Linked DNA regions of Homo sapiens: region 1 is linked to region 2. Evidence: fine-mapped expression QTL. A gene starts in region 2. The other region holds a variant in brackets. All regions are shown on one strand. Distances are between the middles of the regions.

Region 1 (5,369 bases), 60 kb before region 2:
CCTGGTAAGAAACGGAGCCAGAGTGCCTGGGAGTGGCGTCCTGCACCCTGGGGAGAGGCCAGGGCCCTGGAGCAGGGTGGCAAAGCTGGTGGCCCGTGGCAAGGACCACTGGCACATCCCCTGCCTGCCTGGGCCCTGGGGTCTGTGCCCATACCCCACACGGGGGGCTGCTTCCGTGCTCCTTGGAGAGACGATGGTGCTGTGGGGCCACTGAGCACAGTAAAGGCTAAGACCCACCATAGGTCAGCCCTTGCTCATGCTGACTGTTGCCCCATTTCCCTTCATTCTCTCACTCGTTCATTCCTCAGAATCTGCATCCTGGTTTTGTCACTACCTGGAGTTGTAAAGATACCACCAAGCTCACCTTGTGGTGTGAGCCTTGATTTTCCCCATCTGTGTAAAGGGTGGATCTGAGCTCCAAAGTTCCTTCTAGTCATATGCAGAGTGCATAATAAATGTGTTTGTATTCCCACTGTGCTCAGTGGGCACTGGGGCATGCAGAAGAGAAATTGGAATAAATGTGACCCTTGTCCTCCAGAGGCTCAGTACCAGACTGGAACCAGGACCCAGATGAGGGGCCTACCCAGAGAGGGCAGCGTGCTCTCCTATTTGTGTTAGGCGTTACCATTTACAAAGGGCTTTACGGCTTTGAAGGTCCCCACAACGCCCTGAGGAGGTGAAGTGTGGCAATGCCCGTTCACTTGGGAAAATACTGCATCTCAGAGAGACCAAGGGACTCGCTTAAGGTCACACAGATACAGTAAGTAAGTAGGGAAAGAGCTGGGGCCTCTGGGCTCCTTTTCCGGGGCTCTGGCCTCGGTTTTAACCCGTTCTCCTAGACCTCTCAGTCTCTGGGCCTCCCCTCTGTGTTCCCCACCCCCACTTTCCATCAAGAGCTCAGTTCTCTTAAGTTCTATATTCTCTCTTCCCCACCCCTAGAAATCTCTGCCCGCTTCCAGAAAAGGCTTTGATTCCGTCATTTTTGGCATTTCCCACCCAGGAATCAAGGCTGCCTCCTCTGTGAGGAAGGCGTGTGGAAGGCGAGCAGCTGAGGACACCTCTTTTTAAGAGAAGCTTCTCCATGTTCTTAGCCAGGTTATATAACTTCTTTTGCTTCTTTCTTTTCCACATTCTACATATTTTTCACAATGAGGATGTGTCACTTCTATAGTTAAAAATGGAAATCTTCATTTAAAAGAACAATCAGACACAAGGCAAGGTATGCTTACCTTCCCAATGACCAAGGAGCAGGGAGACATTGGTCGTGGAGGCCATAGGTGACCAGCCTTGAGGGAAGGGAAGGAAGGGGAGGTGCAGGGAGGCGCAGCAGAGGCACCCGAGTGTGCTCTACGAATGTAAGTCTGCCAGCTGCTCCTCTGTGCCTAGCACCCTGGAAAGCGCCCGCACACAGTGGGCCCTCAGCAAACTCCCACTGAGCAAAGGGCCCTGTGAGTAAGGACCTAGAAGCAGGGTGTGCTTGAGGCATGGGGTGGGAGGGCATCCAGCTTGGCTGGCGGTGGGAGCCGATGCAAAGGTGAGCTGAGACCAGACGGTAGAAGACCTTCAGTGCTGGGCCGAGGAGGGTTCCTTCATCCCATAGAGAAGAGCTGCCATCCAAGACAGAAGGCTGGGGAGTGACATGTTGAAATCAGTATCTTAGGAAAATAAAGCCACTGGCTGGGCCACTGGCTCCCCTTTGTAGAGGGGTCTACGAAGCTCCCGAGGTTTCAGATAGTCCCTGAGAGCCCTTCCCCTCGCGATGGGCTCCGTTTGAGGCATGTCCAGTGTGAAAGGACCACAGGCCACCTGAGGGACAGGACCAAGCAGAGAGCTAGTGACAGAATGCCCAGGGCTCCAAGACAGGGCTGGAGAGGTGGGAGTGGTCCCCACCTTGAGAGCCAAAGGGGCTGAGGGCTGAGGGTTGAAGGCCGAGAGCCAGGAAGGTCCAGGGGAGCAAAAGGGGGAGCAGAGGGGGAGCTGGAGGTGTTGGGGTGGTGGGTAGAGAGCCAAGATAGGGAGGGGACAAGAGAGGGGAGAATCTCAAGGAAAAGCAGGAGCATGAGACTGAGAGAAGGCCCCTGGAACACTGGCTTGAATGTGGCTGACATTGGCACTGCCAGTACTCATCCCAAACCAGGGAGCTCAGCCAGCGCCCTTTCTGCATGTCCGCTCTTTCATCAGACAGCTAGGAACAAGTTATACGAGATGATGTCCAAGTCCAATAAATGTCTAAGTCCTTTCCACTGGATCTGGCCCCAGCCTCCTCTCTGAACCATCTCCTATCACTCCACCCTATCCCTGCTGGCTCCTTCTGCTCCAGCCATACAGGCTTGCTCCTGGGCTCAGCTTGTGCCTGCCTGGGGAGCCTCGCGCTTGCTGTTTCCTCCTTGAGAAATTCCTGCCCTGGATAACTCCTTCCCCCACTTCCTTCAGATCTCTGCTCCCTTATCAGGGGGCTTCCCCTGGCTGCCCTATCTATAACAGCCCTGACCACTCTTTTCCTCTTCTCCTGCTTTCTTTGTCTTCCTGTTCTTATCACTAAGACATCACACATGTCTTAGTTGGCTTGTTTATATTCTGTCTCCACCCATCTTAGTCAGCTACTGCTGAAATGATGC[T/C]GTGTAACAAACCACCCCGATACTCAGAGGCTCCAAACAAGTGCTGATCTTTCTCATTTGTGAGTCTGTGTGTCAGCCCGAGCAGGGCAGCTCCAGGCTATGGCTTGGGTTTGGGTGGACTCCATGTCTCTCTCCATTCTCCTTGGACCAGCAGCTCCCTGGGGCACATGCTTGTCTTGGAGAATGGCAGGAACTTAAAAGCCAAGCCAAACCTCACAGCACGGTTAAGGGTGATCATGACACACCGCTAACATTCTAGTGGCCAAAGAAGTCTCATGGCCAAGTGTAATAGCAGTGGATTGGGCAAGTTTACTCTCTTACACCTGTTGTGAAGGGGAGTGGGAGGGGATGGGGGGGTGACCGTTTTCACAACAACAGTGCAAACTATCCCATCTCCCAATAGAACATAAACACCTTAAGGTTGGAACTGGGTCTGTATCCCCAGCACTTAAAATAGTTTTTGGCATACAGTAAGGGTGCAATAGACATTTGTTAAATAAATATACAGACTAACCAATTAGCATAATACAGATGACAAAGGTGTCTCTCTTCTGCCAGCTTCTGTGCCTGAAATGTTGATGATCTCCTCCCTATCTTCCTAACATCTCTCCTGTCCCCACCTGTCCATGCCCAGGGTTTGGCTGCTGTGACAGAAGTGTGAGAGCCTCCTGTCTCCCTTGGGATCCCAGTAAGAGCTTCCATGCCTCTCTCCCTGCTCACCTGGGCTCCCATCCCTGGGGACCTTCTGGAAACAGCTTCCAGGGCTCCCAGAGCTTACTTAGCCAGATTCTACATCTGGCTCCAGCTGTTATCCTAAGCTTGGCCTTGTTTTCTGATCTGACCACAGCTTCATCACTCCTACCTGACTGTGGGATTCTAGCCCCCAGTGGGGTGGGGGACCAAGGGTGACAATTACCTGGGACCTTGACTATTGAAAGGCTAATCAGGTTTGATTGGGAAAAAAGAGTTGCTAAAAAGGATTGTATTGGATAATTGGTGAGATTTGAACATGGATTTTATATTAGTATTGTGTTATTACATTTTCTGATATTAGTCATTCTTTTTTTTTTTTTTTTTTGACGGAGTTTGCTCTGTCACCAGGCTGGAGTGCAATAGTGTGATCTCGGCTCACTGCAACCTCTGCCACCCGGGTTCAAGCGATTCCCCTGCTTCGGCCTCCTGAGTAGCTGGGACTACAGGCGGGTGCCACCACACCCAGCTTGTTTTTGTACTTTTAGTAGAGACAGGGTTTCAACATGTTGGCCAGGATGGTCTCGATCTCTTGACCTCGTGATCTGCCCGCCTCAGCCTCCCAAAGTGCTGGGATTACAGGCATGAGTCACCGCTCCCGGCCGTTAGTCATTCTTATAGGTATGTAAGAAAATGTCCTTGAGGTATTTAGCAGGGAAGTTCATGATCTCTGCAGCTTACTCACAAATGGTTAAACAGAATGAGACTAAGAACAGACTAGTAAGAAAAGACTGAAGAATATAATTATTAGGCCAGGTGCAGTGACTCACACCTGTAAATCCCAACATTTTGGGAAGCTGAGATAGGAGGATCACTTGAGGCCAGGAGTTTGAGACCAGCCTGGGCAACATAGTGAGACCCCATCTCTACAAAAAAAAAAAAAAGTAAAAATTACGTGGGCACGGTGGTATACGCCTGTACTTCCAGCTTCTTGGGAGGCTGAAGTGGGATGATCAGAGGACCTCAGGAGTTTGAGGCTGCAGTGAGCTATGATTGCAGCACTGCACTCCAGCCAGGGAGACAGACTGAGGCCCGGTCTCTAAAAAAAAAGGAATCTATGTGAGTCTATATATTCGTGCAACTTTTCTATAGGATTGAAACTCTTTAAAATAAGCTTAATAATAAAAACAAAAGCTGGTGGGTGAGACCTTTCATGTACTCTCCAGGAGAGTTAAGCCCCCCAACATTCCTGTCCCCTTGTTTACTCTCAAGCACCCCCTCCCCCACCCAAGGACCAGGTCTTTGTTTACTGAGCATCTCAGCGATGAGCTCTCACCCCCTGATTTCATCAATTATAAATGTGCTCGCTACTCACCACACGGCAATTTGTGACGGACTGTGGTTTGTGGTGAGAGTAGCACCATCCAAGTTCACCGCAGCCGCGAGTAGAGATGAGGGTTGGGGCCAGACACAGGGCTGTGGGGGCGGCAAGGGCACGCAGGCAGCCCTGCCACCTTCCTGTTTGTCAGCCAAGTGAGGCTTCCGAGGGCAGCGGGCGAGCGGGTCACTACTCAGGGCCAGCTACTGCGGCCAGGCCAGGCTAGTCAGGTCTGTGCAGCCAGAACTAGAGGCTCCGCCAGGATGTGAGGTCTCCCAGCTCCTGGGAACTGAAGCAAACACTCTGACTACCCCTTCTTGAAGTGCCTTACGGTGTATACATTTGTTTAATCTGCACAACAAACCTAGGAGCAGTTATTGTTACTGTCCTCATTTTGCAGATGAGGAAACTGAGGCAAAGAGAAATTAAGTAACTCCTTCAAAGTCTGGTAAGTGACAGAACCAGATTTTACCCTCTTACTCATTGTCCATATTGCCGAGTAACTTACATTAATAGATACTATGCATGTTTATTTTATTTTTTATTTTTTTTTAGAGATGGGGTCTCATTCTTTTTTTTTTTTTTTTTTGAGACGGAGTCTCGCTCTGTCGCCCAGGCTGGAGTCCAGTGGGGCGTGATCTTGGCTCACTGCAAGCTCCGCCTCCCTGGTTCACTCCATTCTC
Region 2 (5,369 bases):
GATGGAGCTGAGGGCTGCTTTTTACTGTCGTTACTTTCCTACCATAGGGGCCCTGAGCTCTGACCCAAAACCTACAGGTTCAGCTGCCACAAACATTGACCTGGCTCTCTGCTGGGCACATTTCTTGTTCTGTGTTATCTGAATGGGCGCCTCATGGTGATACTCCCTGGGCAGGCAGAGATTGGGCTCCGAGGCCTGGCCTGATCCCCTGCACACACCTTGACCATGTCTCCTATGGTGGACTTAGATGGGTGGGAGCTTTTTAAATAGCTGGTCGTCGTGTGAGTACCAGTCCACCCCCAAAGGTTTCATGGGGATAGTTCCAATGTGACAAGAAAGAATGAAAAATAGTCTTAAGACCAAACCAGAGAGGGGACAGAGAAGGCCACCCCCCACCCCCACTCTGAAGAGCAAGCACAGCAGGGGAGATGTGGCCACTGCCATCGTCTGGGGCTGCTTTCTGGTCTGTGGGCTGGTTTGCATCCTCACCTCTGCAGGGCTGGAATGTGTGTGTGGTCAGGGGGGCATTTGCCCAGGGAAGGGGGCATTTTGCGGCTTTTCGAGAATAGCGCCCCTAGGCCAGGCACTTCCTCTGCAGATCATGACTTTGTTTTGAGCATGTGGCTTCCTCAGGGGCTGTGGCCTCTCGTGGGAGTCCAGCAAGGTGGACATTTTGTGTTTGGGTTCCTTACAGCCCTTCAGGCAGTCGCTGGAGCCCAGCTGACCTTGCCTAGAAGGGGAGCTGTGGGGGGAGGCGCCCTTGTCCTCCATTTTGAAGACGGAGGGTCCTGGCTGGCCTCCCATGCAGTTGCCCTTTTTAGCACCCCATAGTCCCAACAGGTTGTGAGGCGGGGAGGGCTGGGGTCCAGGAGCCTGGGCAGTGGACTTCTCTGCCACCTGGATAATGGCCAGAGGACAGGGAAGCTCTTAGTCTGAAGTGTCATTTCAGACGCCCCCATGGCCTCAGGATTCCTGCCAATTATAGAGCCAGATGCACACTGTCACCTGGGCTTCTCTGTGCAGGCCTGACCAGGAACCCAGGGTTCCTCTTCCTTCTCCCTCCCCTGGAATGAGGCAAGGTTGGGACTGGGGTGGCTGCTGAGGACAGATGTCCCTACTCCTGCACAGAGGATGCTGCTCTCCCCTCCAGGGCCTGGACTCAGCTGCACCCATGTCAGGGGCTAAAACTGTGCCGAAAACTCCCATTCCTTCAAGTGCCAGCTCCCTGGGCAGGCCGTGGGCAATGCACACTGCAGGGGTGCCTCTCTGGCCTTCCTCCCCACTGCTTTGTGGAGATCTGTCCCCCACACCCCCCCACACACCAGGGCTATCTTGCAGTTGGATCAAACCAGGTTCACACCTCAGCTCTTCTCACTACCAAGTTACTGAGTGCCTGGAACCTGTTTCTTCCCCTTCGAGCTGGGGGTTCACCTCCTGGGGATTCCATGATGTGGGTCTGTGTGGTGGGGACAGCCACCACCAGCATAGAGTGTCCGGTGCCCCACAGGTGCTGTTCTGTGGATGGGAGGCTCCCTTACCTTGTTCCCTTCCCAGTGGTACCAGCAGCTGGACGTGGCTCCTATATTCCCAGGAGGAGATTCTTTGAAACCTTTTCTTTTCTGAGCCCCTGAGCCTGTTCTGATGCCCTGATGCCATACCCTCACCACCCCAGCGTCCTCCCTGCCCTGGGCTCTCACCAGCGTCTGTTGCCTCATGCCTCTGCACCTGAATTTGAAGGCTGCACCAGCGAGCCATTCTTCCCCCACCTCCAGGCAAGACTGTTCCTCGACCAGTGCTGGCAGAGGCCAGCAATCTTCACTGGGTCTACCCCAGTCTTCCAAGCCTCCCAAAGAGAAGTTTCTAAAACCTCCCCAGGATCTTTTACTAAGAATTCTCTCCTCCACCCCATACCTTTGGTCTCAAAGGGGTGGTGGGGAGGCCGCCCTCCGTTCTCCGCCCGGTTCATGGTCTTGTTGTTCTCCAGCTCCGGTGGAGGCTCGGGGTACTCTCCGAGCTCGGGGATGATTTCCGTGGCATCATTCTTGAACGCCTGCCACCCCTGGCCCTCCACTACACGGAAGGCTGTGTGTACCAGCAGGCAGACGAGACACAGGGCCAGTGGGAGCTGCATGGTACCAGCCAGAGGAGGGCACGCCACCTTCCAGTAGCACAGGCTCTGGTCTCCAGCCGAGACACGGTCGCCTTTTTAAAGCCCCTCTCTGCTTCATGCCAGCCAATGAGGACAGGCTGGGGCAGGGCTGGTCCCATGTTTCCCTCAGCCCCGGAGGGAGGGAAAGGGGTGTGCTCAGAGCAAACCCTCCCCAAAGACTTCTCCTCTAGCTCAGCAAACTTCCAAATTGCTGCTGGCACTCCCAGGTGACCCAGAGAGAGGGGGCGTGTGAGGCAAGGCCCAAGCCTGCTCTCCGGCACCTCCCACGTGCTGGCGGCTGTGGTTTTCAGATATCAAAATGAGCTCCGGCTTTTAATTGTCTGTCTCCCTGGGCCCTCGGGCATTCTCAAAACAAACTGTGGACCCGCTCAACAAAGAAAATGTGCAGTTCTGAGTGCTTCGCGGGGCTGAGCCCGGCCTATTCCATTTCTCAGGCCAAGTTCATTTGTCACCCCACCAACAAATGGCCCAAGGCGTTTCTGTTTGACCCCCATAGACCCAGCCAGAGGCAAAAAGATGCTTTTAAAGAAATCCCATTGGTCCCAACTCCACAAGTCTCAGCATTCATTGTCCTAACCAAGAAAGCCTCTCTTGGTATTCTCTGGAAGGCAAGAGAGAGAACTAGAGGGTCAGAGCAAGGGTGCCCGCTTGGGAGAGAGGGCAGGATTCTGGTTACAAATCGAGGATGCGCTGGTCACTCAGGCTCCTGTGGTGGACAGCACAGAGGAAATCCCAGCTCATGCTCCTCAGGGATCCTGTGCACTGTGACAGGCACTTCTGAGCCAGGGCACTCACTGTGGCTCGCAGGGTGATGTGCTGAAGACAGTCATTTCCCCAACCAGTCTGTGTGTGTGAGAAGACAACACCAAATTCCTTTCCTTAGCAAAAGCCACAGCCAGCGTTTTTAGTGCTGACATTTTATTTTCTTGTCTTCCAGCTGGTTACATTTTTCAAAAACAGTTTTGAGTCCTGTATGGAAAGCTTCATTGGTGCACACCACAGGATGTGTTCCATGAAGCCATCCCAGGACCAAGTGGTCACAAAGAAGCTAAGAGAAAATGCTGCCTTGGCCCTGCATATAATGAGCCACACAGGGCCGGGGCGGGGGGCGGGGGGGCAGGTAGAGGCGTGGGGGAGAAGGATTCACACCTGAGGTGCAAGAAGAGAAAGGAAGGCCAGAGGAATCTTTCATTGAAGACAGATTGTTTGAGGACAAGCAGCTCCTGTGAAGAGGCTGCCCAGATCCTCTGGTATTTTAACTGGGCAATGAATCAGCATGCCCCACCTGCAGAGCCTCTGCAAGTCCTTTGCCACCTGCCTCAACTTGCAAGTCGCTGTGTCCATCTGCAGCCGACTGTCCTCCTTTCCATCATCCATCATCCGACACATGAATGCAGCTGCTCTGACAGTTTTACAAGCCAGACAGAAGCCCCCTCAGGAAGGGCCCTCTCTGATACCTGCTTCCTAAGTCAGTTTCCTTCAGGGCAGATGAAAACAGCTGTGGCCATTGTTGGGGGTGATCTATCTCTCCCAGCAGAGCCGGTAGTGTTGTGAGAAGCTGGCCCTCCGCGCCACCTCCCCTTGTCTATGACCCTCCAGCCTCCTTTTCCCTTGCTCTGGAATGTGGACTGTTAACCCTCTCATGACCAGACGACTGCCTTCTTGCAATGGACTTGGGAGAGAGCAGTTCTGATGCCTGGGTTCCTTGAGCAGGTAGGATGGATGCTTATAGCCCCACCTGCTGTTGGGAGCGGCTGGACCGTCTGCATTAAACAGAGGCAGTGGGATTCATCCCTGGAACGCGTCTGCCACCTGCTGGAGACAAAAGGAGGGGTGACTGCAGGATGGCAAGTCTCAGGACTGGACGTGATTTCCTTTCCTTTCCTTTCCTTATTTGGAAGTGAAGTAATATTAAAAGGAAAAAGAAGAATCCAGTGGACTTGAACCTCTAAATGATCCACACCCCTCTGAATGGCTCAGCGAGAACCTGCTGTGACATCTTCTGCTGTTTCATTTAATGTTAAGTCATTGACAGCTGTTTATTTTTACTCAGTCCACAAACTTGTCATTGTTCACAGTACTCCCTGGAATTAAACCCCCAGGGTTTTAGCTGATTCCTATTGTGAGTAGTTTAGGTTATTTCCAATTTTTTTTCCTATTTCCAGCAGGGTTGCTATGAACATCCTTGTACGGCTGAAATTTTTTTTTTTTTCTTTTTTTGGCAGATTCTCTCTGTGGCCCAGGCTGCAGTGCAGTGGCACAATCTTGGCTCACTGCAACCTCCACCTCCTGGGTTCAAGCAATTCTCCTGCCTCAGCCTCCCGAGTAGCTGGGATTACAGGAATGCACCACCACGCCCGGCCAATTTTGTATTTTTAGTAGAGACGGGGGTTTCTCCATGTTACTCAGGCTGGTCTCGAACTTCTGACCTCGGGTGATCTGCCCAACTCGGCCTCCCAAGGTGCTGGGGATTAGAGGCATGAGCCACAATGCCCGGCCTCAGAGTAATTTTTTAAATTAAAATTTTAAAATGTGGATATAATTATAAATTTAAATATACTTATAAGAAATAAAAGCCTGGGCAACATGGTGAGGCCTAGTCTCTACAAAAAATTTAAAAATTAGCTGGGCATGGGGTCGCACGCCTGTGGTCTTAGCTACTTGGGAGGCTGAGGTGGGAGGTTCACTTGAGGTTGAGGTCGAGGCTGCAGTGAGCCATACTTGGGCCACTGCACTCCAGCCTGGATGACAGAGTGAGACCCCGTCTCAAAAAATAAAAATAAAAAAAAGAAAATGCAGACTCCGTGTATCCTTTATCCAGTTTCCCACAACAATAACACCTTGCGAAACTATAGGACAATATCACAACTAGGATATTGATATTGACACAATTTACCAATCTTACCCACATCTCCCGTGGTTTAACCTCTACTGTGTGCGTGCACACGCATTCACGTGTGTGTATACTTAGTTCTATGCAATCTTGTCACGGGTAAATTTGGGGATCCACCACAGTCAAGATAAAGCACAGCTCTGTGACCACAAGTCTTTCTCCTGTTGCCCACCTCCTTCCCTCCTTTTCCCTCCCTCCCACAACTAACCCCTGGCAACTACTCATCTAATCTCCATTTCTGTCATTTTTTTTTTTCACTTCAAAATTGTTACATAAATGCGGCCAGGTGCGGTGGCTCACTCATGT

What was found. PIP is the estimated chance that this variant, and not a neighbour inherited with it, causes the effect. A credible set is the group of variants that fine-mapping cannot tell apart.
Region 1: its variant is the best candidate, but not a certain one, in a credible set for the expression of SOST in aorta (GTEx, PIP 0.70).

Annotation. Positions count from the first base shown.
Region 1 is chr17:43,696,700-43,702,068 of GRCh38, forward strand. All of the region lies in intron 3 of LINC02594 (long intergenic non-protein coding RNA 2594), which reads left to right. Among named protein-coding and RNA genes, the nearest start is that of LINC02594, 35 kb to the left of the region's middle. RefSeq lists enhancers at 4,895-5,054, 5,172-5,369. The variant T/C (reference allele first, on the strand shown) is at 2,619.
Region 2 is chr17:43,756,611-43,761,979 of GRCh38, forward strand. It overlaps SOST (sclerostin), which reads right to left and starts at 2,181. Exons shown (of 2, transcript NM_025237.3): 1 at 1,912-2,181. The coding sequence starts at 2,131. RefSeq lists a silencer at 3,831-4,125.